4 linked regions of the Homo sapiens genome follow. The protein of the gene in region 4 purifies or fractionates together with the protein of the main gene of each other region. This does not show direct contact. Each region holds a gene or a part of one and is shown on either strand. Other genes may lie near its edges.

Region 1 (8,006 bases), on a different chromosome or scaffold from region 4:
ATTACTATAATTAATTGTATTGCTAAATGCCCACAGTACACATTTTTTTTTTCTGAGATAAGGTCCCTTACTCTGTCACCCAGGATGGTGTGCAATGGTGTGATCTTGGCTCACTGCCACTTCTGTTTCCCTCTTGAAGGCTCAAGTGATCCTCCAGCCTCAGCCTCCTGAGCCGCTGGAACTACAGGCATGAGCCACTACGTCTGGCTAATTTTTGTGTCTTTTGTAGGGAGGTGGTGTTGCCATGTTCCCCAGGCTGGTCTCCAACTCCTGAGCTCAAAGCAGTCTGCCCACCTCAGCCTCCCAAAGGGCTGGAATTACAGGGGTGAGCCACCGCACCCTGCACCCGACCAGTACACATTTTTAAACCAAGATATTATTCTTACACTAGAAAAACTGTTTGTATACTTCACTTCTCCTGACTGTACTCCCAGGCTAGGCTGGGTTTACATCCTATGCACTCTGTAGGCATCTAATAAGTACTAATCTCTATAGTGAGAGCAGAGACTACTGAGGACACAAAAGGCGATTAAATTGTTTTGGACTGATCTTACATCAGTTAAGTTTACAGAACCATTATGAAGTACTTGGGAGGAAGGGAGGGGACCACTTTACTAAACAATGTTGCTAAAAGTGGTGTTCCCAGAGACAGCCAGCCATCTTAGATTATGACTTTCTTTAAGGATAATCAAGTTGCAACAAACATCTTCACAAATAATTTCTATTATATTCTAGATATATATTACTAATATATTCTAGAGGCCTAACTATAGCCAAAAAGTAATTTTAAAACTTCTTCAGTATTCTTTAGGAAACCTACTGTCCACATCGCATCCCTTCAAGTTTAAAAATCAAAGTGGAGGCCAGGCACGGTGGCTCACGCCTGTAATCCCAGCACTTTGGAAGGCCAAAGCAGGTGGATCACTGGAGGTAAGGAGTTCAAGACCAGCCTGGCCAACATGGTGAAACCCCGTCTCTACTAAAAATACAAAAATTAGTCAGGCATGGTGGCAAGTGCCTGTAATCCCAGCTACTTGGGAGGCTGAGGCAGGAGAATCACTTGAACCCGGGAGGCTGAAGTTGCAATGAGCCAAGATCATGCCACTGCACTCCAGCCTGGGCAACAGAGCGAGACTTTGTTTCAAAAAACAAACAATAAAACATAAAAGTCCCTTTAGGGCCAATTGTGACTTTGCAGTCTGTCCAGCCCTTTATCAGTTTTAAAGAAATTGACAAATGTAATATTATAAAGCTTAAAAAAGTTTATTTCTATTAAGGAAGGATAAAGCACTTAAAATTGGATAACTATGTAGTGGGTTCTAATTATTAGTATTTCTTAAGTTCCAGAGAGTTCCACTTGATAAAAACAGTTACTTCAGCTAGTGCCAAATTCTAGGAGTAGCTTTGGTCTCCCATAACGGCCACCAAATATTAATTGCAAATAAATAACCTAAGTAAAAGCAGTGTGTTTGTTCTGCATATATAGCTTGAAGATCCACCCCTCACCTTCAAACCAGACAGTCACCTCTGTAAGCCTTTCCTACAGAGAAATTCTGGAGCCAACACTATTTCCAGAAAAACAGTCCCATGAATTATTAGTCAAAAGTTACTGGACTGTCCTTGCTGCTTAATTGCAAAATTAAATAAAATGGAGAGTGGGGGGTAGTTCTCACCCTTCCTGGATTTTACCTGATAGTTAACCTTTGGCTAGATGTGTAAGCTTTACAGTTCGCTTTCCTTTTCCTCCCGCACCAGGCTACTTTTTGTTCCTTCAATGCCTATTCATTCGTCTCCTCTACTCCCCGCTTCCCCTTCCTTCATACACCAACTCAGAGTTCGAGGCACCTGCCCATTTCCTTCCAAATAAAACTGTAAAGAGGTTACAATAGAAGCGCCTGTGGTGACACATTTACGAACGCCTCCGTTATCGCCCATAATCTACTCCTAGTAGCTGGGGGTGGGGGGAGTAAGAGGATAAAGAAAAACCCCAAGTAGCTTTCCTCCACCTACAAGGCCAAAAAAACGTGGTGCCCTAAGGAGCGTGGAGGGCGCCAGCATGCAGCCTCCCGGTTTCCCCGTGCAGCCCTAGGTGCAGGACCCGGGGTAGGTACCCCCTAGACGCCGAATCCTGCAAAGGTAAAAACTTGGCACTTTCTCAGTCTTGTTTCCAGACTGACGTCATCTGTTTGATTTGAGGGAAACAGCTTTCTGTTTCATAAGGAGCATTCCCAGCATCGGCGCTGAGGGAAAACAGGCGGCGCAGAGGCAGGAGCACGACCGGGCCGCGGAGGACCGGTCCAGCGCCTTCACAGACGGCTCCCGATCCGGGCCTCAGTTTTCCCGTCTGTAAAACGAGGGGGTGGACTTGGCTCCGCTCAGCGCCGATAATCTGAGCTACGGCGGCGGAATTAAGGTCTTTAGGAAGTCACTGCCCCCCCCGGCCCGGAGTCGCCTTTTCTCCAAACTGAGCAATCCTCTTACGGGAATTATGTTACTTCCAAGCACCTTTCTAGGGTGGGTCGGTGATTTCCTTTTCCCAACAGACCCTGTCAGAGCCAGACACCTGCAAAACTAGCTGGGCCCAGGTTCGGGTACCCCGAGGCGTGACAAAGGGACCATCTCCGTTCAGCGGGGAGGGATGGCCGGAGGCGACCCTCGCCGCCCCGACCGGCGGCGGCAAGTATGCAATGTGAGGCCGGCCAGGCCCCACAACGCGCCCGAGGAGACGGGCCCGCGTCGGAGACCTGGGGCCGAGCGCGGGCCGCACCCTCCCGGGGAGGCAAGGCCCGGGAATGAATGGGCGGACGGGCGCGGAGGGGCCACGGGCCGCAGACACTCACTGAGGAAGACTCGGTACTCCAGGGAGAAGGGCGCGGCGCGCTCCTCGGTGCTGAAGCCGCTCATAGTGCCGGAGTCCTGCCGCCGCCGCTGCCACAGAGCCACCAGCCCGCACGCGGCGCCGACTGACAAGGAGAGAGCCCCACGCCTGCGCACTGCGAGCACTGGACCGGCGGGCGGGGCGGGGAGCGCCTTTAACGCGGCTCTGCTAGTGTTCCCACCCCCGCCGGGCCAACCCCGTGCGCAGGCGCACTCCGCCAGGCCCGGGTGTCCGCACTCCCCAGCCCCGCCCCTCGGGCCCAGCCTCCGCGATGGCAGCTAGGGCTCAGAGGCTGGGCCACGTGGCTGCCGCCGGCGCTGGTTCTGTTCCTTCGGCTTTGGGCTCTGACCCGGGAGGGCAAATGCGCAGGCTCTAAGCTTGGACTAGCTAGGAGTTGACCGCCGACCACGCACACAGGGAACTCACCTTTGATTCTCACACACTCCTCCCCGCAGTCCTATTCCTTATCTCAAAAGGCGTTGATAAGTCACCTGCTTCCCCAGACAGGCTCTGCTTGCGGTCTTAAAGGTGAGCATTTTTCTGATCCGTCGTAACAAAGTTGAGCCATATTACTGACACCCCTAGTGGCTACTAGTAAGGTACTCGCTTCTCCACTTTCTATAATCTCTCTCACTCCGTTGCTTATCTGGGAAGTGAAGATAATAATATAACTATTTCATGAGTTACTGGGATGATTACCCGAGTTAATACACGTCAAATGCCTGAAGCAGAGCCTGTATCTTTGTAAACAATCTGGAAGTTGTTACTGTCACCCTCCCCAGTGGGGGAGGATTTACGCCCCCGCGCCCCCCGCCCCCTCCATCCCCCCTGCCACCCTACTTAACCCACCTGGGTCTCCAGGGGCTTCAGATGGAAGCACTGGGAAGGTCCAGGCGTGAGCTAGAGTCCCGTGAAGGAGTGTTCTCAGGGACAGGCTCTTCTGATCTTGATTTCCTGTTTATATTCCATCATATCAGGCCAGACCCCAAAAACTAAAGTCTGATTGAGGCAGTGGGAAAATATTTGCATCACTTACCTCCCCAGGAATACATGTAAAAGAAAAAAAGTATATCCACAATCCTAAATATAAATTAGCAAATTATTATTCACATTTCAAAGAATGCCTGGTTTTATTTATTTATTTATTTTAATTTCATGGCCAGGATTTCTTTAAATAACTTTTTCTAGAACATTAAAGATAATGTGCCTTAATGACATTTTGAATTAAACCCTTTTTTCCAAACAATGTCTATTGTAAAAAATGAATATTAAATGAAAACCTAGTAAGATCTCCAGTTAGTTATGGTGTCGCTCCCTTTGTCTCCATCCAACTCCCAAACCTCACTGACACCCATTAATTTTCAGAAGGCTGTGATTCACTGATTTTTTGAACATTTCACCACACTGTTTTACTGCTGTTAAAACAGAAGGGCAGGAAAAAAAATTAGCGAAGCAATAGTTTAGTCAATAATTAGGGTCAAGGCCAGGCGCGGTGACTTACGCCTTCAATCCCAGCACTTTGGGAGGCCGAGGTGGGCGGATTACCCGACGTCAGGAGTTGGAAACCAGCCTGGCCAACACAGTGAAACCCTGTCCCTAGTAAAAATACAAAAATTAGCTGGGCGTGGTTGCACGCGCCTGTAATCCCAGCTACTCGGGAGACTGAGGCAGGAGAACACTTGATCCCGAGAGGCGGAGGTTGCGGTGAGTTGAGATCACGCCAGTGCATTCCAGCCTGGGTGACAGAGCGAGACTCTGTTTCAGAAAAAAAAGTAGGATCAAGTTCAAAGAATATTTTAAGGGGATGCTCTTTTGATTGAACTGCTCTATCACTTTTCTGCCTTTGAGCAGATGGAACCAATTTTCTTGGAAAAACCCAGACTCTCATCTGTGACTGACTTAAGAAGACAGCAGTGATGCAATAATAATGTTCTACATACACTTTCCCTTTGCCTCCTGCCAGCTCAGAGCAAGATAATAAAGTCTCACTGACCTCCAGACTTGCACACTGGCTCTTGTTTCATCGAATGTATTCAGAGAGCCAGTCATTATCAGGTCTGGTAAAACACCCAGCCCTGGTGAATTGTAACTTTCCTTTGCAGGCAAGTGTAGTGAGCCCATAGGCCCAAAAGGACCTTGGTCTACCATGTCTCCCTAGGGCCTAGCACAGTACACAGCCTAGAGTAGATGTTTAGTGAATCTTTGCTGGACGGATAGGTAGAGGAATTAATGTAAAGGTGGAAAATACCTTCTTAAGTACATTAGTTTGACAAAGAAGGAGTCCATCTCTTCTCAAATATTATCTTTCTCACTCAGTGACCAAATCTAGTGGCACTTTTCAGTCCATATCCTGTCCCCTTTGCTGTGGGTGACCCTGTTGGGTGTCTCTAATTTCCTTCTTTGGCTTGCGACTACATTCTCTTCTTTTTTTTTTTTTTCTTTTTTGAGACAGAGTCTCACTCTGTCACCCAGGCTGGAGTACAGTGGTGTGATTTCGGCTCACTGCAACCTCCACCTCCCAGGTTCAAGTGATTCTTGTACCTCAGCCTCCTGAGTAGCTGGGATCACAGGCATGCACCACCATGCCTGGCTAATTTTAGTATTTTTAGTAGAGATGTGTTTTCATCATGTTGGCCAGGCTAGCCTCGAACTCCTGGCCTCAAATGATCTGCCCACCTCAGCCTCCCAGAGTGTTGGGATTACAGGCGTGAGACACGGTGCCAGGCCACGACTACATTCTCTTCTCGTGTTCTTCCTACTTCTTTTTTTTTTTTTTTTGAGATGGGGTCTCGCTCTGTCGCCCAGGCTGGAGTGCGGTGGTGCGATCTCGGCTCACTGCAACCTCCGCCTCTCGGGTTCAAGCAATTCTCCCGCCTCAGCCTCCAGAGTAGCTGGGATTACAGGCGCCTGCCACCACGCCCAGCTAATTTTTTGTACCTTTAGTAGAGACCGGGTTTCACCATGTTGGCCAAACTGGTCTCGAAGCCCTGACCTCGTGATCTGCCTGCCTCGGCCTCCCAAAGTGCTGGGATTACAGGCATGAGCCACCACGCCCGGCCCATTCCTACTTCTTTGCTACTCATTTCTCATTCTCCTTCTCAGCCTTCATTTCATCATCTTAATCATCATTGTCTTTCTTATTTCTCATGTTCTCTCTCTCTCTCTAGAGCAATACTCTTTGTCTAGATTATCTCATGTATATCTCTGGCGTCAGCTACCACCTAGAGGTCCTATAACATGAAAACTTTCAAATCTATAACTAACTCTTATTTAACACTTACTGTGGTCATGCTCTGTGATAGGTGGGTAGGGATGTAGCCCTACTAGGCCTTATAGTCAGAACTTATAGTCTAGAAGAAAGACAGACTTCAACAAATAATTATAATAAATTTGGGTGAGTAGAATGATATAGGAAGTACAGGGCATTACATTATGGGAGCAGAAAACCTCTTCAAGGAAGTGACCTGTAACCTGCAATCTGAATGATGACATGGAATTAATAAGGCAAAGGGGACAAGGCAAAAGCCAGAAAACGGTTAGGTGAGACTAGGCCGGGCGCGGTGGCTCATGCCTGTAATCCCAACACTTTGGGAGGCCAAGGCCGGCGGATCACGAGCTCAGGAGTTCGAGACCAGCCTGACCAACATGGTGAAACCCGTCTCTATTTAAAAATATACAAAAATAAGCTGGATGTGGTGGCACGCACCTGTAATCCCAGCTACTCAGGAGGCTGAGGCAGGAGAATCTCTTGAACCCAGAAGGCAGAGGTTGCAGTGAGCTGAGATCACACCACTGCACTCCAGCCTGGCAACAAAGCAAGACTCCGTCTCAAAAAAAAAAAAAAAAAAAAAAGAAAGCGGTGAGACTAGAGAAATAGTCAGGGCCAAAAGCTAGAAAGCCTTGGAAGGCACGATATGAGGATTGAACTTTCTCCTAAGAGCAATGGGAAACTTAAGAAGGGTTTTTAATGGGAAAATAACATGATCAGAATTGCATTAAGAAAAGGTACTATCAGCAGCTTAGAACTTGGATTGAGGTTTAGTAAGACTAGAGGCAGGGAGACCAATGCAGTCCACTGCAGGGCCCCAGATGAAAGGTGATGGTGGTTTCCTGAACTTGGGCGGCAAAAGAGAAGGCTGATTACAGAGCTGTGTTCAAGGTAGAATCAATGGAATTATTGATTGAATAGTGTGGAAGAGGAGAGAGGTGGAGATCTGAGGATGAGTCCCAGGTTTCTGGCTACAAGAACTGGTTGAGTTGAATGGTATGTCATTTACTGAGAGAGAGTGGGTGAGATGGAGGGTATTAATACCAAACACTCCTAGCTCCCTGCCCAATGGCCATATTACCTTCTCTTTTCTAACAGAATCCTGATTTTGTTCAAGAGACTGGATGTGGTGGTTCATGCCTGTAATCCCAGCACTTTAGGAGGCTGAGGAGGACGGATCACCTGAGGTCAGGAGTTCAAGACTAACCTGGCCAACATGGTGAAACCCCGTCTCTACTAAAAATACAAAAATCAGCTGGGCGTGTTGGCACGTGTCTGTAATCCCAGCTACTCAGGAGGGTGAGACAGGAGAATCGCTTAAACCCAGGAGGCAGAGGTTGCAGTGAGCCAAGATCACGCCATTGCACTTCAGCCTGAGCAACAAGAGCAAAACCTCTGTCTCAAAAAATAAATTAAATAAAATAAAAAGAAGCCACTCTCCTGCGCACACCTTTGCCTCAGGGCAGCCAGCCCTTCCTTCATCTTCATGAAATGAAGTTTTTTTTGTTTGTTTGTTTTAGTATTTATTGATCATTCTTGGGTGTTTCTCAGAGAGGGGGATGTGGCAGGGTCATAGGATAATAGTGGAGAGAAGGACAGCCGATAAACACATGAACAAAGGTCTCTAGTTTTCCTAGGCAGAGGTCCCTGCGGCCTTCCGCAGTGTTTGTGTCCCTGGGTACTTGAGATTAGGGAGTGGTGATGACTCTTAACGAGCATGCTGCCTTCAAATATCTGTTTAACAAAGCACATCTAGCACCACCCTTAATCCATTTAACCCTGAGTTGACACAGCACACGTTTCAGAGAGCACAGGGTTGGGGGTAAGGTTATAGATTAACAGCATCCCAAGGCAGAAGAA
Region 2 (7,020 bases), on a different chromosome or scaffold from region 4:
GCCACCCTGTGAGAGCTATAGTTAGACTCCTAGAATCTTGGCCTTGTAGCCCCCAGTGACCTCAGAGACTGTCTGGCTACCATGTGGTAAATGAAGCTGTGACCAGAGATGTCACCTGACTTGATTGTGGTCACACATCCAGATAGAAGGTGGCCTCTGGGTCTCCAGCTTGCCTTGACTCACAACTAGAGGCCTCAGTGGTGGTCGTGAGGTCAAGGGTCCACATGGGTCACGGGCCCTACCTGTGGATAACTTGGCCAGCCAGGAAGGGCCCGCTTCTCAGGTGTGCGTCAGGCCAGAGGGCGCTGCGCTCAGGCTGGGTGTCCGGTGGTCAGCATCCTTCATGCACATTCCAGGACTCTGCTTGGGGGAGTTAACACTCCATCAGCTCTGATCCAGGTGGAGTTCCTGGGGCCTCCCTGGGTCTTAGGCCAGGCCTGTCCAGGTGGTGGCAGGGCCAGACACAGGCTGTTACCCCAGCAGCCTTCCCCTCGGGGTGTGGGAGAGCCCAGCTCTCTCCCGGGGGACACTGTGGTCCTAGGCTTTGCTTCATGATTCCCTTGGGCCCCCTTTGTTTCCTTTTGTTTCCTTATCTTTGTTGTGCTTTGAATGGGGGCCGCTGGCTCTTCGTTGAGGACTGAGGGGGTGTCCGACCCAGCATGGCACAGGGTGCAAAGTCCCTGTCTCCTCTGAGTGGGCTTCTCCCTCTGCAGAGGGGGAATGCTGATCCACCCTCTCCAGGGTGGCTGGAGATGAGCCTCTCTGGGTTGCCCCTTCCTGGCTGCCACTAGCCCCTAACCGTGGTGCCGCCAGCAGACGCACTGCTTCCCTGCCTTCACCCCCATCCCCATCACAGCTCTAGATTCCAAAACATTGGGGGCCATGAGTGTCCTCCCATCCCTTCTTCCTGCCCTGGCTCTCACACATCAACTGCGGACCCCCCAAATTCCCCCACACATGCACACATGCCCAGAGAGCTCGGGAAGTGAGAGCTGGTGGAGACTGTCCCTGCTGGGAGATGTCCCGGGAGCTGGCACCTGCCATCTTGGCCTGACCCAGTATGCTCCTTTCATCAGAGCTTAGTCTGTTTGAAATGGACCAGATACAGGCTGGGTAACCCCTCTGCTTACAGTCAGCCCCATGGAGCCTCATCTTCTCCTTTGATTCTTGTCGCTTCCCTGAAGAGCTGAGGATGTGCCCTTTCTGGGGCAGAGACCCGGGCATATCAGTAAAGACCTGGGGAGGTGCCCCACACCTCCACAGCTGAACACCTTCCGCTCTTCCCCACCCACCCCCCAGGAGGAATCGGAGAAGCAGCTCTGTCTGATTGAGGCGCAGACCATGGAGGCCCTGCTGGCTCTGCTCCCAGAACTCTCTGTCTTGGCACAACAGGTAGGAGGGGAGGGTGGTTCCCGGGGACCTCACAGTTCTCAGGGAATGTCCCCGGGTCTCACCGAATGTGTTTCATTGCAGAATTACACCGAGTGGCTGCAGGATCTCAAAGAGAAAGGCCCCACGCTGCTGAAGCACCCGCCAGCTCCCGCGGAGCCCTCCTCGGTAAGTGTGGCTGCCTGGCAAGGCTCCTCTGTTGGGCTCCCCTGTCCCCAGGAAGAGGGGCTGCCCCAAGTCATTTCAACGGGAAGCCAAGAGAAGAACCTTTGTGTGTGGCTAACTAAACACCTGTTCTTCCCTCTCTCAGGACCTGGCCTCCAAGTTGAGGGAGGCCGAGGAGACGCAGAGCACACTGCAGGCCGAGTGTGACCAGTACCGCAGCATCCTGGCGGAGACGGTGAGCATTGGGAACCTGTCAGCTGGGCATCCCTGGGAGGCTGCAGGGAAGGAGAGCTTCGGGGCCTATGGGGCAGGAGGTGGCCTGGTGTTTTGGAAAAGCCCACTGGCCTTGTGACTCTGGGCCCCGTTCTTCGGCTGCATGGTAAATGGATGGCACCCTCTGAGGTCGTCATTGTTTCTAAGCTGAAGAGAAGGCCAAGTTGAAGGTTCGGGGCCGGTCTCTAAGCTGGGGAAGGGGAAGGACGGGGTAAGCAGCTGGTGACTGCCAGGTTGAACCCCGTTTGTGACTAAGAGCAATGCCAGGTCTAGCCCTGCCACTCTCTGGCCAGCCCATCCTGTGCTCCTCGTCCTGGGCCATTGACACACTTGGTGCTGGTGGCAAACCCCGGCAGTAACAAGCATCCTAGTGGTCCTGTGCAGGTCACAGACCTCATTTCCTTGCCTGGCACTGCAGCCACACTGGCCCACTGGCCAGAGGACCTCCCTCCCAGGACAGTGGTTGCCTTCCCTCCCCACCTAACGCTGGCGCTCATGAAGTCAGCAGGCGGAGCACGGCAGGTCACCAGGGCTGCAGGGACAGGAAGATGCGGTTGTGTGGTGCGGGTCTCGGGAGGGAGAGGGCCCTGCCTCACCTCGGTTTCCCCCCAGGAGGGCATGCTCAGAGACCTGCAGAAGAGCGTGGAGGAGGAGGAGCAGGTGTGGAGGGCCAAGGTGGGCGCCGCAGAGGAGGAGCTCCAGAAGGTATATGCAGCCCTGCCTGCCTCCCGGCGCCGTGGAGCACATGAAGCCCAGGGGAGAGTTGACAGGATTGTCTCTGTCACCTGTGAGACTCGTGTGTCTCGGTGGGGCTTTTCCACGACACCCTATGAAGCACAGTTGCGGGATGACAGCTCAGTCCGTCCTCCAGGAGGCCCCCGCCTAGGAAGACACTGCCAGATGGCGCCAGGGTGACCGTCCCAGCTGGGCGGAGTGGGCACCCCCGGGGCTTCCTAAGTTGGGTCAGTCCCGCTCGGGTCCTAGCATGGCCTCGGAAGGAGACACCCCCAGGTGCTCGTGTCTGACGGAGCCTTCCCCTTGCTTTGTAGTCCCGGGTCACAGTGAAGCATCTCGAAGAGATTGTAGAGAAGCTAAAAGGAGAACTTGAAAGTTCGGACCAGGTATGTGCTCTGCTCAGAGAACTCTTTCTCTTGTCCCGGGAGCCTCTTTGAAAGTGACGTTAATGCAGAGGACACTTCACTGATTTCTTCCTCATGGACCGTGTGCCTTAAGAGAGGCATTCTCTCTCAAGCCAAGGGATCTTGTCCATCCTGTTTTTCCTTAATGAGAGACATTGACTACCTCAGAGGACCCTGAGACCCAGCCACGGGCCCTGTGCAGACCTGCCCAGCCCTGGTGAACAGGGCTTCTGCCACGGCCTTCACAGTCAAGGTGGCCCCACTGCCCCCTTCAGACGCCACAGGGAGCCCTGGAGAAGGTACCCTTGGTACCTGCTTTTGCAAGTAAATCTAAGAGCATGTCAGTCCCCAGGAGTGCCCGGGTGCAGCCTGCCACTTTCCGTAAGGGGTTCTCTTGCCGCGGACTAGTTTCTCGTTTGCTTGGTAGCTGGTGGGCCTCAGGGATCTCCCGAGAGGCCTCACCTATCCCAGGGCCAGCCTGCTCCCTGAGGTGAGTGCCCTTTGAGCAGAGGCTGCTGGCGCATGCGTGTGCGTGTCTGTGCATCTGTCCAGGTGAGGGAGCACACGTCGCATTTGGAGGCAGAGCTGGAAAAGCACATGGCGGCCGCCAGCGCCGAGTGCCAGAACTACGCCAAGGAGGTGGCAGGGGTGAGTCTGCCCCCCAAGGAGTGCAGCCCCTGCCCAGCAGATCTGCGGTCCTCCCTGAGCTGCTTCTCCTCAGCCCTGTGGGAGCAGCTCTCGGTGACATAAGCCTTGAAGTCCGAGTCCTCAGGCGTTTGCCCGAAGCCTCACAGGCCCCTCGTTGGGCTGTCAGGCCTGAGGTGTCTCTCAGGGCAGGTTTCAAAAAGGCAGCCTCCCAGCCAGGACAGGGGCAGAGCCAGGCAGCCCTGCCCCGAGGGAGGCGTTTGACGTTCTAGGTTATCCCTCCGCAAGGGGATTCTCTGCCTGGCTTGCTGATGTCATATCTGGTGGGGAGTGGATTTAGATCTGACACTTTTTCTGCTCTTCAGAAGCAGAAGCACAAGCCCAGTATCCCAATTCTGGTTTAATCTCAAACTTTTGGGCCAGGCACAGCGGCTCATGCCTGTAATCCCAGCACTTTGAAAGGCTGAGGTGGATTGCTCGAGGCCAGAAATTTGAGACCGGCCTGGGCAACATAGCAAGACCGCATCTCTACCAAAAAAAAAAAAAAAAGCCAGGCACACTGGTGGGCACCTCCGTTCCCAGCTGCTTAGGAGGCTGATGCAGGAGGATTGCCTGAGCCCAAGAGTTCAAGACCAGCGTGGATGACAGATTGAGACCATCTCTGAAAAAAAAAATCATCTCCAACTTTTGGCCCTTTTTTGCCAGAGATAATCAGTAAACATTTGTGAAGGCCTGAAAGAGGTACGCAGTGAACACCATTCTTCCTAAGTCCTCAAAAAAGAAATCGTAGCTGTAGGAAGCCTGGCGAGCCCTGTGCCGGCCCGATGCTGTGACCCTCCTCAGGGTTTTGGTTAAGTGGATGTGTTAGGTTTTATGTTTCGGCGCTAACTCACGGGGACTGGTTTTCTCCTTTTCTCTCCTTTTTTCCCATCACCCGCCTCTGTTTTCTCCCCAAGCTGAGGCAACTTCTCCTAGAATCTCAATCTCAGCTCGATGCCGCCAAGAGCGAAGCCCAGAAACAGAGCGATGAGCTTGCCCTGGTAGGTGGCCTCCATGTCCCCATGCCAGGAGTGTGACCTGGGGCGTTGCGTGTGTGAGATGCATTTGCCAGTCATGCGTTTGTGTCCACTCAAAGATAAAGCCTAGGGAAGGGACAGTGTCACCCGTTGAGCAGCATGGGGCCGGCTTCTGGGGGCCTTCCTGCACATTTGCCCAGAACTCTGAGCTGGGCCTGTGGCTGTTGGGACCAGGGTGCTCCCACTCCATCTCCCGTCCCCTGGCTACCTGGTCCCCTGTTCAAGGTAGTGAGAGCTCTGGGCGTCTGCATTCCCTGTGAGCCCATTGTAGTCACCTGGGGGCGTCAGGGATATTGCAGTCCCTGGCATCACAAGACCAGGAAGCCTGGGGGTTCCTCCTGGCCTGGCCACCCATCGCCCTGGGGCTCTCAGCAAGTCCCGTGCCTTCTGTGGGTTTTCTCACCTCAGTGACAGCTCAGATCAATTCAGTCAAAGCCACAGGCATGCAGGGAAGACCTGCTCCACGCCCGGCCCCATACCAGCTGCCGGGTGCAGAGAGCAGCCCCCTTGGCAGACCACTGGAGCTCTGCCTGTGCAGGTGGCCTCTTGAGTCCCTCCTGGTGTTCAGCTCAGGTGTCTGATGCCAAGTCCCAGCTCCTTGGCAGGCTCCACCCAGCCTCACCGGATCTGGTACCGCCCCAAGGCTGGTGTTGTGAGCAGCACCCTGTGAGGCCGCAGACATGTTCTGTTTGATCTGCGGTGTTTTTTTAAATCTTGAATTAGTTGTCAACAGGGAGAAATTGGGAAATTTTAAATAAAAATGGGCTGGCATTCCCCCTGCAGCAGCCAGTGAGTCCGGCACACGCTCCCAACACCCTCGGTCCCCCTTGGTCATTCAGGTCTTACCCGGACCAGAACACCAGAGGGCAGTGCTGCCTAGGCCAGGTCTCCTCCTGTGTCTAGGGGCCACTCACTGAAGCCTTGGCTGAGCGAAGTCTGGGTGACAGGCCCCGGGGGCATGGCCCAGGCCGGGGATGTGCAGAGAAAACCCCCTGGAGTTTCTGTTGTCTTCCAGCTGTGCAGTTCGTTATTTGCATTGGGAGGGGCTGTTCAGAGGGAGGGAAGAATGTCTGGGGTTCCCACGTACCTGGGGTGGCCCCTCAGCGCAGGGTCAGAGACCGCCCATGTTCCCTGGGGAGCTTATGCCAAGGGCCCCACCTGGGTCTCCAATTGGAACCTCTACCTGAGCCTCTCGAGTGACACCTGCCCTTCAAATTGCAGGCCCAGTGGTTTGGGTGCAGCCAGATATGCCACCTAACCCCAGTGATGGAGCGTAGGGGTGGGGGACCTTGTTAGGCAAGAATGTTATCTCATAATCTTTTCTAGACCCCGGAAAGGGCTCTGAGCAGTGGACTGCATCCTTGAAGGAGAAACGGGGGGTGTAGACAGTGTGGCGGCCACCCCCCGGTTCCATTCGGATTCCTTTGCTCTGTGGGCCATGCCCATCAGGGGTCACCTCACTCCCAGGGAGGGCTCCCCTCCGGTTGGGCTTGGAGCAGAGCACATTGGGTCTCATTAGCCCAGAGGCTTGGTGGCCTTGGTTTGGCTCAGGTTGGCGGCGGGGGTGGCCAGACATAGGTCACAGTTACCAAGCCAGGTCCCCTGAAGGGACTTTGGCTGTTGAGAGCAGCTACGGTCCTCCGAGGGGGTCCCTGCAGGAGTGAGCATGGTGGGTGTGCGACTGGCTGTGCATTTGCAAACACACCCCTTCCTGTTCCAGGTCAGGCAGCAGTTGAGTGAAATGAAGAGCCACGTAGAGGATGGTGACATAGCTGGGGCCCCAGCTTCCTCCCCAGAGGCGCCCCCAGCCGAGCAGGACCCCGTTCAGGTTAGGGCGGTGAGCTGGTCCCCAGACACATCACTAATCCCAGAAGAGTGCAGGCCCTGCTGCCTCCGTTCGGACTAAACCCCGCACTGGCTGCTCCAGCCTCCGCTGCTTCCCCACCCCACCCTGCTTTGCCCCATTTGGATCATCCAGGTTCGGAGAAAGCCACAGAGCATGGAACAGAAAGGTGGCCAGGTGGAGAGGCTGGAGGAGTTGGGGGGAGGTGGGACTCGAAGAGGGAGTCCGTGATTTGGGGTCTGCACCTACAGGGCTCAGGAGCAGCTCTGGGCAGGGTCTGCAGCCATCGAAGGGGACTGTCTCCCACTGCAACCCCGGCTGGGACATCGCTAGCAGGATATTCGCTCTCCAGAGTTTTGAGCCCGGCAATAGCCACCAAGAGTCCTCACCAAGAGGCAGGGCCTGTCCCTGGGGTGGCCATGGTGTGGCTGTTAAGGGGGTTGTCATGGGGCCAGGGCTCGGAGGCATCGTTCTTGTCCTGTGAGTCTCG
Region 3 (7,020 bases), on a different chromosome or scaffold from region 4:
AGCTCTTTTCTCCTTTGAGACCTAGTTGGAAGGGCAGAGATAGGGTCTCTGAAAGGAATAGTGAATGACACCTGTATTTTTTGGGGAAACTTCATTGAACAAGAGTTCCATTATAATCATTTTCTCTTCACAAGTAACCTCTTCCATAACAGCAGGAATTTTACATGAGTTTAGATCATTCCTCTATGGGAGGGATTTGGTTCAGAAGTGCAGTTGATTGGAAGTACTCATAAGTGAGTTTCTTGGGGTTTGGTAAAGAGTTTCCTTATTTGGTAAATACATTTTGGCAATCTAAGCCTTTGAGTCTTTGGAGCTATGAGTGTGTGCGTGCTGGGAGGATTTTTCTGAGTATGGGAAGAGTTTGTCATGGCTGTTGTGTTTGTTCCCTAGACACGGGCATGTGTTGTACATACTCAGAACCTCTGGGCAACTTTACTGGAGCCCACATGTTATTTCTCTTCATGGTTTATTGGATTTAACAAGTTATAAAGTAGTCGTCTAATCAAATGGTTGGGTATCATGCAGAAAACACTAGAGCTGAGCCGGCTTGCAGATTTCACCTACCAGCGTGAAACAACCTAGCATAATGATTAGAGTGCGAACTTGAGCCAGACTGCTTGGGTTCACAGCCTTGCTCTACCATTAACTGTAGACGAGCAACTGAACCCTCTGCTTCAGTTTCCTCAACTGCAAAATGAGGATCACAATAGACTACCTTGTAGAGTGGGATGACTGAATGAGTTAGTGGATGTGAAGTGGTAGAACATAGGTAACACTGGGTAAGTGTTGTTAAATCGTTGCCACTAGTGTCATTGACTGATTAATTAGCTGGGAGGGTTGCCTGGGACATTGTTTTAAGACAGATTCTACAGACAGGTTTGGGCTCAGCAGAAATCAGAATTTGATCAGTAAGAGCTGCCATGCCACAGATGTGGGAGGGGCTAGTGGCACCTGAGTCTCATGGCTTAATCTGTGTTTGGGTTGATAAAGCCCAATGGCAAGACCCACGGGGCTGAATCCATCTTTCAATAGATATGGAGGCCACATTTGCAGAGTATGAAGAATGGTCAGAAGACCCAATACCAGAGTCAGTAATTCAGAACTATAACAAAGCACTACAGCAGCTGGAGAAATATAAACCCTATGAAGAAGCACTGGTAAGTGTTGGCTTCTTTTATAGTAAACGTCTCTCTACAAACCTTTCCCTGATGGATAGTTGCGAGTTAAACAGTATCTTTAAAATGTTTTATTCTGAAATATATAGAGTGTATAAATGTATACGTACAGTTTACATACTAATAATAAAGTGAACATCCATGTACCTACCACCCAGGTTAAGAAATAGAACATTGCCAGTACCTTAGAAGTCTCCTATGTGCCCCTCTCCGATTGCCTCCTCCTCCCTCTCCCGAGAGGTAATCACTTTCCTGACTTTTGTGATGATAATTCCCTTGCTTTTCTTTATAGTTTTACAAGCTATGAAAGTATCCTTAATTAATATATTGTTTAATTTTGCTTGCTTTTGAACTTTTATATATTGGAATCATGCTGTATATTTTATTTTCATTGAACATGCTTTTGGGTTTTACTCATGTTGCTAAGTATAACTCCGGTGCATTTGTTTTCACTGCTGTAAAGTTGTCTGTGTACTGCGATGTATTTATCCATGTTGCTGGATAGTTGGGTCATTTCCAGGTTTTTGCTAGGAGAAGGAGCAGCGCCACTCTGAACATTCTTGTGTGTATCTCCTTGTACACATGAAAAAGAGTTTCTCTAGAATACGTACTTAGGAATGACTTTGCTGGATCATAGGGTGATGTTAAAGTGTTTTCCAGGTTATCAGTTTGCACTGCTGTGAGCAGTATCTGAGAGTTCTCGTTGCTTGTGCCAATCTTGGATATTGGTCATACTTAAATTTTACTTAATTTGATGAATTTGAAATTGTAGTTTTAATTTGTATTTTCTTGGTTACTAATGAAGTTGAGCATCTTTTCACGTGGATTGGCCATTCAAATTTTTGTGCGTGTTAAAGTGTTCAGGCTGGGCACAGTGGCTTATGCCTATAATCCCAGCACTTTGGGAGGCCAAGGCGGGAGGATTGCTGGAGCCCAGGAGTTTGAGATCAGCCTGGCAGCGTAGCACAACCCTGTCTCTACCAAAAAAAAAAAAAAAAAAAAAAAAAAAAAGCCGGGCTTGGTGGCATGTGTCTGTAGTCCCAGCTTCTCCAGAGGCGAAGGTAGGAGGATTGTTTGAGCCCAGGAGGTCAAGGCTGCAGTGAGCTGTAATCATGCCACTGCATTGTCACCTAAGTGACAAAGCAAAACCCTATTTCTTAAAAAAAAGTCTGGGCCGGGCGGGGTGGCTCATGCCTGTAATCCCAGCACTTTCGGAGCCCAAGGCAGGTGAATCATGAGGTCAGGAGTTTGAGACCAGCCTGGCCAACATAGTGAAACCCCGTCTCTACTAAAAATACAAAAAATTAGCTGGGCATGGTGGCGGGCGCCTGTAATCCCAGCTGTTTGGGAGGCTGAGGCAGGGGAATCGCTTGAAGCCGGGAGGTGGAGGTTGCTGTGAGCCGAGATCGCACCACTGCACTCCATCCAGCCTGGGCAACAGTGTGAGACTCCGTCTCAAAAAAAAAAGTCTTTGACCCATTTCCCTTTTGATGTATCTTTTTTCTAATTGATTTGTGGGAGTGCTTTGTCTTAAGTCTTATTTTAGGCTGTATGTGTTGCAGATTTTCTCCCCAGTTGTTTGTCTTTTCACTTCTTTTTTTTTGAGACTGGAGTTTCGCTTTCACCCAGGCTGGAGTGAAGTGGCGTGATCTCGGCTCACTGCAACTTCCGCCCCGCCAGGTTCAAGCGATTCTCCTGCCTCAGCCTCCCAATTAGCTGGGATTATAGGCCCTTGTCACCAAGCCCCGCTAATTTTTGTATTTTTAGTAGAGACGGGGTTTCGCCATGTTGGCCAGGCTGGTCTCATACTCCTGACCTCAGGTGATTCACCTGCCTCAGCCTCCCAAAGGGCTGGGATTACAGGCGTGAGTCACTGCAACTGCCTTTTCACTTTTTTATTTTTTAACAGTGTCTTTTGATGAACAGTTCTTAGTGATCAATTAGATTAAAATTCTTTCCCTTTTGGTTGTGCTTTTGTTGTGCTTATTTAAAAAATATTCCCTACTTAGCTCTAATTTCTTCTAAAAGTTTTATAGTTTTCTGTTTCATATTTAGGCCCTCATCCACCTGGGATTGATTTTTGAGTGGTATGAGACTGCGTCTGGTTTCATTTTTCCATATGGAGAACCAGTTGTTCTAGTACTGAGTTTGATCATTCCTTCTTCCCCTCACTGATGTGCAGTGCCACATCTGTCATAGATTAGCTGTCCATTTATGTGTGGGTCTTTCTTCTGGATTTTCTGTTCTGTCCCACTGGTTTATGTTACACTGTTGTAATGATGAGAGTTATAATGTTTTGCTCTTGGATAGGGTGAGTCCCATCCACCTTTTTCCTCTTCAAGAGGATCTTGGCTTTTTTTTTTTTTTTGCCTTCAATGCTTCCATCGGATTTAGAATCAGCTTTTCTAGTTATATTTTTAAAATCTTTTTTTTTTTAATTGGAATTGCATTGAACCTGGAGATCAATTTGGGGAATAATTTACATCTTCCAATCTATGAACATATATAGGTTTCTGCTACTTATATCTTGTCTTTCTGTAAAGCTTTATAATAATATTATAAATTTGTCCAGTGTCTTCAACACTTGACCTTTAGAGTCCCCTGCAAGGGAGATTTGCTGGTAACAGATTTTCTGTGTTCAAAAAGGTCTTTGCTTCCCTTCTTGAAAATTATTTTCTTAGGCTATAGAATTCTAGACCGACAACAGCAAAAGAATTCTAGACGGACAATGTGTCCTCTCAGCAATTGATTGTATCTTTCTGTCTTCTGATGTCTGTTGTTGCTGTTGAGAAGTCAGCGGTTTGTATAAATCTTGCTTCTTCAGAGGTAGTCACTTTTTTGTCTGACTGCTTTTAAGATCTCATTGATTTGGTTTGCTGTCCTCTAATTTCACTGCAGTAGGTCCATGTGTGGACTGGCTTGAAGTTTTTTGGGCTTCTTGACTCTTTTTTTCTATCTTTCTTTGCCAACAATAGGATTGTGAAGGTCAGATTCTTAATATACGTCAAGCCAGCAAAAGGTTAATGTTTACTTAGCTTGCCACCCTCATTTAGATTTTGTCCTTAGTCCTTAGTATTTCTTGTTTCTTTGCCAGTTTGTTGATGACTTTTAAGAAGATATTATATTTAATTTAGCAGTTTTAGTTGTTTTGAATGGTACAGTGTGTCTGGGTAACTAATTCTTCCTCGTTACTGGAAATGGAGGCCCTGAAACATCCCCTTTCTACATATGGAGTCTGTGTGTTCTCTTACTCTCCTGCACTGCTTCATCCTTTCTTTTTCATGTGTAAATGATTTGCATGTACCTGTGCTTCCCAAAACTTCGATCATTCAATTATGTCATGGCCATCAGCAAAATGTGCCTGAAGAGAAAACATGTCGAATAAGATTTTTTTCTAAAAAGAATTTGATTGTATGTCTTTGGATCATTAAACATTCAGCACAGCTGCCTTCATCTTCTGCATTTATCTACATTCTTCCAGGAACTGATATTTGGAATAAGAAACCTGAAATAGCATCAGGCACCAAAATTTTCCAGTTTGGTTGTATTAACTCTACTCAGTAGCCCAAGAACATGACTTCTGGTTTGGAAGGGTGGTTGACAGTGGTCACTGGCAAAGGTGTTGCTCTTTCACTCAGTTCCTGATTGATGGGCTACTTAATTCCCTGTGGTCTAGGAATGGATTTAGAAAAGAGTTTATGGAGCCTTTGTAGCGACTGCCATGAACTGGCACTTTGGACCAGATGAGAAGACTCTTGTTTTGCTCAAGAAGTTGTAGAGGCCATAGTGGAGTGGTTCTGAGAGTGAGGATTTGGCGATTCATAGTTACTGTAGCCAGTTTTGCCAAAATTTATTTTATTTGCAGATGTGTTGTGCTTCCTGCCAGTAACTAAATTCAATACAATTTTCCTGTACTCCAGTTGCAGGCAGAGGCACCAAGGCTGGCAGAATATCAAGCATATATCGATTTTGAGATGAAAATTGGCGATCCTGCTCGCATTCAGTTGATCTTTGAGCGCGCCCTGGTCGAGAACTGCCTTGTCCCAGACTTATGGATCCGTTACAGTCAGTACCTAGTAAGATCACTGTTCTAATTTCATTTTATTTTTGCCAATTTAGAATCTACTTAAAATCAGTAAGAGTGCCAGGAGTTTGTTGCATACGGCCCTACTCTTGCTTTTCCTCCATCTGCTTTTTCTCCTCTTTGCCAACTCGTTTAGAAAGTTTTAGTGTTTCAAGTTATTTAAAAATGGTCACTAACTGTAAGTAAAATGAGCATATTGTCTGTGTTGAGGACTTATAACAACTTGATATTTTTCTTTTAACTTTTTATTATGGCAAAAATGTAAACATATAAAAGTAGACAGATCAGTAAAATGAAACTTCTGTACCCCTCACCCAGCTTCAACAATTAGTAACATTTATAGCTTTAGTTTACTTTGATCTGTAGTCTCACCTACTTGTCCCTTCTGTGTTACTTTGAAGCAAATCCAGAAATGATATTTCGTTGGTAAATATTTCAGTATGTGTATATAAAATATTTCAGTGTGTCTGTATAAAAGGATCCAAATGAGGTCTATCCAGTAGGGTTGGCTGACGTCTTTTAAGGCTGTTTTAACCTGTAAGTTGCTCCTCTCCTTCTCCTCCACTCCCCTTAGTGATTTTTTTGTTGTTGTTGAGGAAACCAGGTCACAAGAGATGTTTATAAGGACATTTCTTTCATCACTTGGTCGTGCTGGCAATGTCTTGTTGATGGTGAATGCTTAATAAAGTGTAATTTCCTAACTCTGGAATTCTTTATCATAGGATCGACAACTGAAAGTAAAGGATTTGGTTTTATCTGTACATAACCGCGCTATTAGAAACTGCCCCTGGACAGTTGCCTTATGGAGTCGGTACCTCTTGGCCATGGAGAGACATGGAGTTGATCATCAAGTAATTTCTGGTGCGGATGTTTTTGTGGGAGAACTTCTAAGCTATTTGTCCCAAGTGAAAAACAGAGAGCGGTGACAAAGTCATTACATCAGTGTTCCCTGGGGTTTTCTTTGGGTTATGGAGTGTAGTGACAAAAAGGGCTCTGAGTGAGAGATGAACTGGTTATATTTGTGGCTTCTTAGAGCTTTTTAACATGCTAATATTCATTGTATTTTCTAAGAAGTTGTAGTGTTTTCTCCAAACTTCCTTGATCTGGAACTTTTCTTGCAGGGCGTCTTGTGGAAGAAGTTTTTTCTAGAACACAGTCTGTAGAGTGCTGTAGCAACTTCTGTCTTCAACATTCCTGTCTAGCTCATTTCATTCTGTTGCATCTATTAGTCTTTAAAGTCATGTAGTGTTTTATAGTCAGTAGAATGTAGTGACTTTCTATTAGTTTCCATTTGAATTGGTAACAAATCCTGACTTTTCTCCAACTCCAGTAACCTTCGAGAAAGCTTTGAATGCCGGCTTCATCCAGGCCACTGATTATGTGGAGATTTGGCAGGCATACCTTGATTACCTGAGGAGAAGGGTTGATTTCAAACAAGGTATTTAAGCACATGTTTTTCACTTTAGAGCTGAACATGTTCTTAATACAACTTTTGGCGAGATGTCCCAGTTCCCCAGATACATTGTGATTGGGCAAATGATGTAGACTAGGTATTGGTGACTTTTTCCCCCAGAAATCTTAGCAATTTCTGTCTTTAACAAGTCATGATGTGGATTGTAAAGCAAGAGAGTAATCGTTTATACTGGCTCCTGCCAGCCTTTTTAGTCTTAGCTCTCATTTCTCCTTTCAGGTCTTTTTATTTATCCTAAATACTTCTTGAAATAAGTCTGCTGTGTTTTAGAAAAATCTTTGTACCTCTGT
Region 4 (7,020 bases):
GGAGGCTGGAGTATCCCTACAGACACTACAGGGTCCCCCATCCAGGGAGCGCAGGCTTCACTGAGGGCCTGGTCAGCTGTGCTACAGACAGGGAGCGGACAGCAGACAGGGCGTGTCCTTGCGTCTGTCCATGCTGCCCGCAGAGGGAAGACAGAACTGGGAAAGTTTGTCCAGGAGGCAGGAAGAGGTAGGGGGCGGGGAAGGAGAGAGCTTCGGAAATGTGCCTGGGTCAGGTGGGGGATTCAGCATCAGGACAGACAGCAGCCACGCTGAAAAGCGTCATGGGAGGGGCGTCGGGTCCATGGGGAGAGACCAGAGCGGGCCCAGGTGGGAGTGGAGCCCATACTTCATGGCCGAGAAAAGCAGGCAAGTTTGGAGAAGGCGTGTCCAAGGTGAAAGGAGAACCAGACACAGGGCTGAAGGTCAAGGACAGAGGAGGCTGGAGCCTCATAGCAGGGTCAGGGGCTGAGGAACGACTGCGGACCAGCCCAGGCGACGTGGAGGGAGGACACCATCCTGCCAAGGGCCGATGGGTGGCACGGTGGGCCAGGGCAAGGCGGGTAGGCTTACAAGTAAATGGGGAGGGGTGGGGGCAGATGAGGGAGGAAGGAGCAGGCAGCAGAGCCAGCCCTGATGGGGCAGGAGGGTGGCAGCCTAGGGTACTTTGCCACAGAAGAGGCTGTGGGGCTGAAGGCATGGAGCAGTCCTCGCACCAGAAGGGGAGCATGCCTCGTAAGCCCCAAGTCAAAGAGGGGCCTGGTCACGAGAGTCATGCAAGGGTGGGTCACAGGCATTGTGTTAGTGCCGTGCTGGGGGCACCCACCACTCACTTTCCTTCCTTTCAGCCTGGCCGAGTCCTCCTCATCCATCAAGTCCAGGTTCACCATCAGCTCCTCTACTCAGCCCACCCGACCTGGGAGAGGCCGGCACCCAACTCCAGCGAAGAGCTGGCCTGGAGTTGGCAGCGGAGGGTACTCGCTGGGCCTGACAGCTCACACACCACACCTGGCGCTACCACCACGGGCCCTGGTGAGGCATGAGCTCCTCCACTCCAGGAAGGGGCAGGGCTGGGAGAGGGGCTTGGAGGGGCCTCAGCCTCGACTGGGAAACAAAGCAGCTGGGGCGACTCGGCGGCCCTCCTCAGCCATGTGGGGAAGCGACAGGCCGTGCTCCAGGCTCTGAGAGGAATGGGTTTTCAGTGCATGTTCGCCCCAGAGATTTCAGTGCACGCTCCTCTCCGGGAGGCTGAGCAGCAAATGCTTGCGGATCTGCGTGGGGAGCAGACGCCGCGGGGGCAGGGGCCTCGAGAACCTCTGGAATCAGGGGTCAGCCTCGCAGGGCCGTGGTGCCTGCCTGGCCACTTCCATGAGAACGCCAGCTCCCAAGAGGCCTGCGGGCACCCGCCTGCTCCCAGCTGCTCTGTTCCCGCATCCTCGCTCCCCGGAGGGGCAGGAAGCTCCTACAGCTCTGCTTTCCTCTTGCTCCCCTCAGTGACAGACACAAGAGCTGGTTCAAAGAGAAATCAGGACCACCCCAAAGGCTGCAGAGCCCCTGGGGTCAGCCAGGATGGGGAACCTCTGTTCTTATGACAGAGACAGGGAAGCTGCCTCTTTGGGCCGCGCGAACCCTGTCGATGTCTGTGACCCTACAGAGTCCATGCCAGGCGGAGAACCACCAGCTCTCAAACGTGGCAGAGCTCAGGGGATGTGGACACCTGGGGGCAGCAGCCCCTGTGAACGAGTGCGTGTGGCCTGCACACGCCCACCCCACCTGCCCTGCATGAGGAGGAGAAAGGCCAAGGGGCTGGGACCCTCAGCCCAGAGCCCACCAGCCTGGCTTGGTCTCATCAGGCAGGACCTGCAGGCCAGGACCACCTGGAGGGAGCCCACCCCTCCAGCTTCCCAGCAGGCCCTTCAGCAGAGGATGGGGGACCCAGGGCACGGTCCTCATCCCCCTCCAGCATTCTTACACAATGCCAGGGAACACCAAGGCGCCACACTCAGAGGCGACCTGGACGCCCAGGCAGCAGCCATGCTAAGGCGCTCTTAAAGGGGTCTGTCTCTCTTGTCCTGTCTGCCCAGCCCCACCCCACGGGCCCTGGGAGTACAGCCCAAAGGCCTACCCGCTGGTTATGAAGCGTTCCTTCTCAAGGCCTCACCGGATCAGCCCCGCAGCCCGAGGTCACCGGTCACGGCAGTGGCCAGGCCCAGCCCTACTCTGACCCCTACTGACAGGACAGGACTCATGCAGGCACAGATTCCCCCTGGAGGCCCAAACACAGGGACCCTAGGGCTGCCTGGCAGGGAGGGGCCGCCGTTCCAAGGATGCGCACTCACCACCAGCTGGGGCACAGGCAGCGACCTGCCTTCCTGGCTCAGCGACACGTAGGTGAAGAAGGCACTGGCGGCCCGGTAGCGCTTCTGAGAGCTGTCCACAACAGGGTCGGCGTCCACCAACACCTCGATCTCCATGGACTTATTGCTCGTGAAGGTCATGCGTCCCGAGATGGTGATGACGCAGCCTGTGGAGAAGGGAGGGCGGGGGTCAGGGCGGCCTCCACCCCACGGCTGGGCGGGGGACACTGGCGTTTCTGTGGTCAGCAGGCAGACACTTGGTTAGGGGAAGCAGTGGCTTGGCTGACTACCAGATGTTCAAATAACAGAATATTAGAATGTGTCGTTAGTTGCCCATGAATGTTTATCTTTCTAGTGAGCAGGTTTATCTACGCTAAAATTCAGCACTGAAGGATTTTGGTGGCCATGAGTTCAAGCCCCCGCCCAGGCGGGCTCTCTCCTGGCCGGGAGTGGCAGCACCTGCTGAAAGGCTTCAGAGCCACTGTGCCCCCACGGGGGAGGCCGCAGACTGCCTTCCAGGAGCTGTGGGTGTCGGCTGGCTCTGCCCTTCCTTAGGTCAGGGCCAAATCTGCAAACTGCACTGTCCATTCATTGGCCTTGCTGGTGCCCACCGGAGCCACAGCTGCCCCACTACACTGCTCCAAGCACCAAGACAGAACCTTGTATCACCTTCCACAGCCATTCCCACCCTCAGGGGCTCCAGTGACACAGGGCAGCTGCCCGTGCCCCTTGGTGGGATTGAATCTTATGTGACTGCATGCCAAGCCTCCCTTCTGGCCCCACTGGTCTCGCCCACGGGACCAAAGCTTCCTCCTCTGGGCTGCTGGATGCCACACCCCTTGGCCAGAGTCCTCCATGCTCAAAGCACCAGCCCCATTTCTCTGTGAATCATGACAAAGTCCAAAGTCACCAGTTCCCATACATTGTTCCCATGTCCCTCTCTCCCCCTCAACCCTAACCAACCTCTCTGTACGCCCCACGCTCCCCAGGGCACGACAGTCCATCCTGGCAGAAGCTTCCTGACCCAGAGCTGCTCTTCTGCCCCCACCACCCTCCCCGGCCTGGGCTCCATCCTCCTACCTGGCCTCAACATAATCCCTTAATCTCAGGGAGCTCAGCTCTTCCCTATAGGCAGGCATGAGACACCCTGCCTGGGGGATAGCTACGGGATGGAAGGACTCAAGCCAAGAGCTGACCTGGGGCCCCGGGAAGGTGTCACCATCGATGTCACTGGCCACCAGGCTGCAGAAACCCCCGGGGACTTCCGGGGCAAGTGCTGCCCTGCGGTCAGAATGCCCTCCCAGGCGGCCCAGCGTGGCCTCTATTCTGGGCCAGGCTCAAGGATATCCCTGCCCGACTCTGGCTGCTGGGACTTGCTCCCCAGGAAATATATCTGGCTTCGGGGACTTTTTAATGTGGCCTCTGGAACCCCCAGTGTCCTAGCTGCACCGAGACCAGCCTCACAAGGCAGGTTTAGAGACCCAGAGTGAGAAAGCGGCCAGGTGGTGGCTGTTGGAGGGCGGTTAGCAGGCCAGAGGCAAGAGCGGTTATTCCATGTTAAAAAGTATCAGAACGATCCATGCTACATTCAACTTCATACTTACAGGGAGCACTTCGTGCCAGTGCTGGGAGAGGAGGAAGGAGCTGTGTGGTCAGCGCCAGCAGGCATTACGTGAGCTGTAAGGTACAGAGTCCCATGCAAAGCGCCCGCAGTCACAAGACGCACCCCGGGAGGAGGGCAGGCCATGGGTCAGGCCCCAGCTAAGGAGCTAGAAGTTTCAACAGGTCAGACCTGAGGGTCTCCCAGCATCTCTGCCTCCTTCCTCACAATGCCCAGCCCACATCCCTCACCAACAATTGTGTATAACACTTGGGAGTCACAGGCCAAAAAGCAGGAACAAGCCCTTTCCATGAGCAGAAACCAACAAGAACTTCCCTGTGGCCACGGTGTCACACACGGGGGCCACCCATGAGCGTGGTGCCTGGAGGAGGGCAGGTTCCAGGGGTCTTTGAACACTGGCTCTTAGTTTTGAGGAGCAACAGAAAACGTGTTTTTGTTTTTGAGATGGAGTCTCGCTCTATTGCCCAGGCTGGAGGGCAGTGGTGCCATCATGGCTCACTGCAACCTCTGTCTCCCAGGTTTAAGCGACTGTCACACCTGTCACTTAAATAGCTGGGATTACAGGCGTGCACCACCATGCACGGCTGATTTTTGTATCTTTTGTAGAGATGAGGTTTTGTCTTGTTGACCAGGCTGGTCTAGAACTCCTGGCCTCAAGTGATCCAACTGCCTCGGCCTCCCAAATTGCTGGGATTATAATTAGGTGTGAGCCACTCCGCCCAGGCTCCAAAAACATGCTCTTGGTGTTGCCCATGAAGGCCCACCTTGGCCACTGCTGCCACGGCCAGATCCTGGCTGCTCATGGCTTAATTGCTGTGTTAGAAATCTGAAGAAACTCCTAACAGCAATCAACAATGACTTTAAACAACTAAGTAGGTTGATTATAAAAGCATTAGACGTAACAACAAAAAGAAGAGAATGCTGTCTGGGAGAGCCTCTTGTGGTCCATAATACAATTAACACTTCATAAATGTCAGGAAAATTTTCAATTACAACCAAAATCTGAGAATTTTCACCCTTCAGAGAGCAACATCATTATTCTAAACAAGACACAGGCTATAAGGTTGGCTAGCAGGACAAAGTGAAATACTTTAAAACTGGAAACCTAACTGGATATAGTGGCACACGCCTGTGGTCCCAGCTACTCGGGAGGCTCAGGCGGGAGCATCGTTTGAGCCCAGGAGGTCGAGGTTGCAGTCAGCTGAGATCGCACCACTGCACTCTAGCCTGGGTGACAGAGCAAGACCCTGTCTCAGAAAAAAAGAAAAAAACTGGAAATCTGATGTGGTCACTGGCTGGGACTTAATTTGAAACCTAGGGTTGACAGACGAATCACAAGTCCCAGTCACCAAGAGAGAGCCCAGTTTCCAGGGGCCCTGGTTTAGGGTATCCCATCTCCTAGACCCTGGGCTCAGAAGGCACATCCCACACATGACACCAAGGTCTCACAGGCAGCCTCTGGGAAGGGACTGTCCCAGGGGACCTCGGGGGGACCAGCTCCCACCCCCAGGGCTCTGTTCCTGCTCTAGCCCTTCCTGAAGAATTCCAGCTACAGACCGGGCGCAGTGGCTCATACCTGTAATCCCAGCACTCTGGGAGGCCGAGGCGGGCTCATCACTTGAGGTCAGGAATTTGAGACCAGCCTGACCAACATGGTGAAACCCTGTCTCTATTAAAAATACAAAATTAGCCGGGCATGGTGGCACATGCCTGTAATCCCAGCTACTTGGGAGGCTGAGGCAACAGAATCGCCTGAACCCGGGAGGCGCAGGTTGCAGTGAGCTGAGATCATGCCATTGCACTCCAGCCTGGGCAACAAGAGCGAAACTCCATCTCAAAAAAAAAAAAAAAAAAAAAAAGAATTCCAGCATTCCAGCTACAGGCACTTTGTCAACCCCAGGATGGCGGCTGAGGCGCACACCAAATCCTCTCCGCCTCCTCCAGGTCACATAGAGGCCCCCCTGCAGCATCGAGGCCTCCCTGGGGACGGAGGTCCATCCAGGTGGGGTTGGGGTGATGAGCGACTGGCCTCAGCCTCTACAAGGGCCCCTAGCCTGCCCCCTGCTTTCCACACCCCACCAGAGTGGCCTTCTGTGAGCTCCCTGAAGCTCCTGGCCCCCGTGGTCTCTCCCTAGAAAAGCCCTCCTCTTACAGCTATCTGGTTCATCTTCTGAACCTCGGCTCAAGCATCCCTTCTCCAGAGAGCTGCCCAGGGCGGCTCAGCCCCCTCCACCACACCCCCTCTAGAACTGTCCTCCACTCCTGCAGAGCCAACGACCCCATTTGCATTGGCACACTTGTTGGCTTGTCTATTTCACTGTTGTCTGTCTGTCCCCATCTAGCCTGGAAGTCCCACGAGGGCAGGGCTGGGCCCAGGGGGCCCAAAGCAGGTATCCAGTTGACAGGCTGGACCCCTCTGGGGACCCACGAGGGCTGGGGTGTGGGTCACATGTGGACACCAGGTCACCACAGACTCAAGCTGGCCAGAGCCCCATTAGAGCCCCAGGTTTGCATCCTCCTGAAGTGGATGCTGAGCAGCCCAGAATCAGGAGTGCCCAGGAGCATGGCCAGCAGCCCCTTCCAAGCCCTGCTGGCCGGTACTTCCTTCCAGTCTCAACTTCAGTGCCACTCCTGGAAGCAGCCTGCCCTGGAGCCCCACACCTGTCCACCTCCCTTCCTCCCTGCAAAAGGGTGGAGAGCCTGGGGGCAGTCACGTGCTGGCCGTCACCTGCCCACGGGGCAGCACAGACTGATTCCGCCCTTCCTGCTAATTCCTCCATGGCGCAGCCATGTGCTGTCATTCCTCCCACTGGGTCAGAGCCTGGACCATCCAGGCTGCCGGCCAAATCATGACCATGCCCACAGGTCCCTCCACCAAATGTGGAGGCGGGTGAGGCTGGTCATGCATCAGAGAGCTGAAGACAGCGTGTCCAGGTGGCTCTCGGGAGCCCTGAACCTGACAGGAAAGGCAGAGGCAGGGCCCGACAAGCACTGCCTGCAGACCTGGCGTGTCACACGGAGGTCAGGATGCTTCAGGGTCTCCCA

What was found.
Region 1: the proteins of ACOT7 (region 4) and PPA1 purify together in Homo sapiens (affinity purification with mass spectrometry; 2 studies listed by BioGRID, with this or other methods). This does not show direct contact.
Region 2: the proteins of ACOT7 (region 4) and RRBP1 purify together in Homo sapiens (affinity purification with mass spectrometry; 2 studies listed by BioGRID, with this or other methods). This does not show direct contact.
Region 3: the proteins of ACOT7 (region 4) and SART3 purify together in Homo sapiens (affinity purification with mass spectrometry; 2 studies listed by BioGRID). This does not show direct contact.

What each region holds. Positions count from the first base shown.
Region 1 is NC_000010.11:70,230,424-70,238,429, forward strand, and holds the start of PPA1 (inorganic pyrophosphatase), read right to left. Parts: upstream 3,007-8,006; 5' UTR 2,905-3,006; coding exon 2,841-2,904; intron 1-2,840.
Region 2 is NC_000020.11:17,616,227-17,623,246, reverse strand, and holds part of RRBP1 (ribosome-binding protein 1), read left to right. Parts: intron 1-1,299; coding exon 1,300-1,392; intron 1,393-1,473; coding exon 1,474-1,557; intron 1,558-1,699; coding exon 1,700-1,789; intron 1,790-2,439; coding exon 2,440-2,532; intron 2,533-2,876; coding exon 2,877-2,948; intron 2,949-3,518; coding exon 3,519-3,614; intron 3,615-4,567; coding exon 4,568-4,651; intron 4,652-6,407; coding exon 6,408-6,515; intron 6,516-7,020. UniProt on the Homo sapiens protein: Acts as a ribosome receptor and mediates interaction between the ribosome and the endoplasmic reticulum membrane.
Region 3 is NC_000012.12:108,537,165-108,544,184, reverse strand, and holds part of SART3 (spliceosome associated factor 3, U4/U6 recycling protein), read left to right. Parts: intron 1-1,032; coding exon 1,033-1,157; intron 1,158-1,340; exon of another isoform or gene 1,341-1,373; coding exon of another isoform or gene 1,374-1,415; intron 1,416-5,095; coding exon 5,096-5,251; intron 5,252-5,981; coding exon 5,982-6,120; intron 6,121-6,589; coding exon 6,590-6,697; intron 6,698-7,020. UniProt on the Homo sapiens protein: U6 snRNP-binding protein that functions as a recycling factor of the splicing machinery. Promotes the initial reassembly of U4 and U6 snRNPs following their ejection from the spliceosome during its maturation.
Region 4 is NC_000001.11:6,278,766-6,285,785, forward strand, and holds part of ACOT7 (cytosolic acyl coenzyme A thioester hydrolase), read right to left. Parts: intron 2,522-7,020; coding exon 2,337-2,521; intron 1-2,336. UniProt on the Homo sapiens protein: Catalyzes the hydrolysis of acyl-CoAs into free fatty acids and coenzyme A (CoASH), regulating their respective intracellular levels.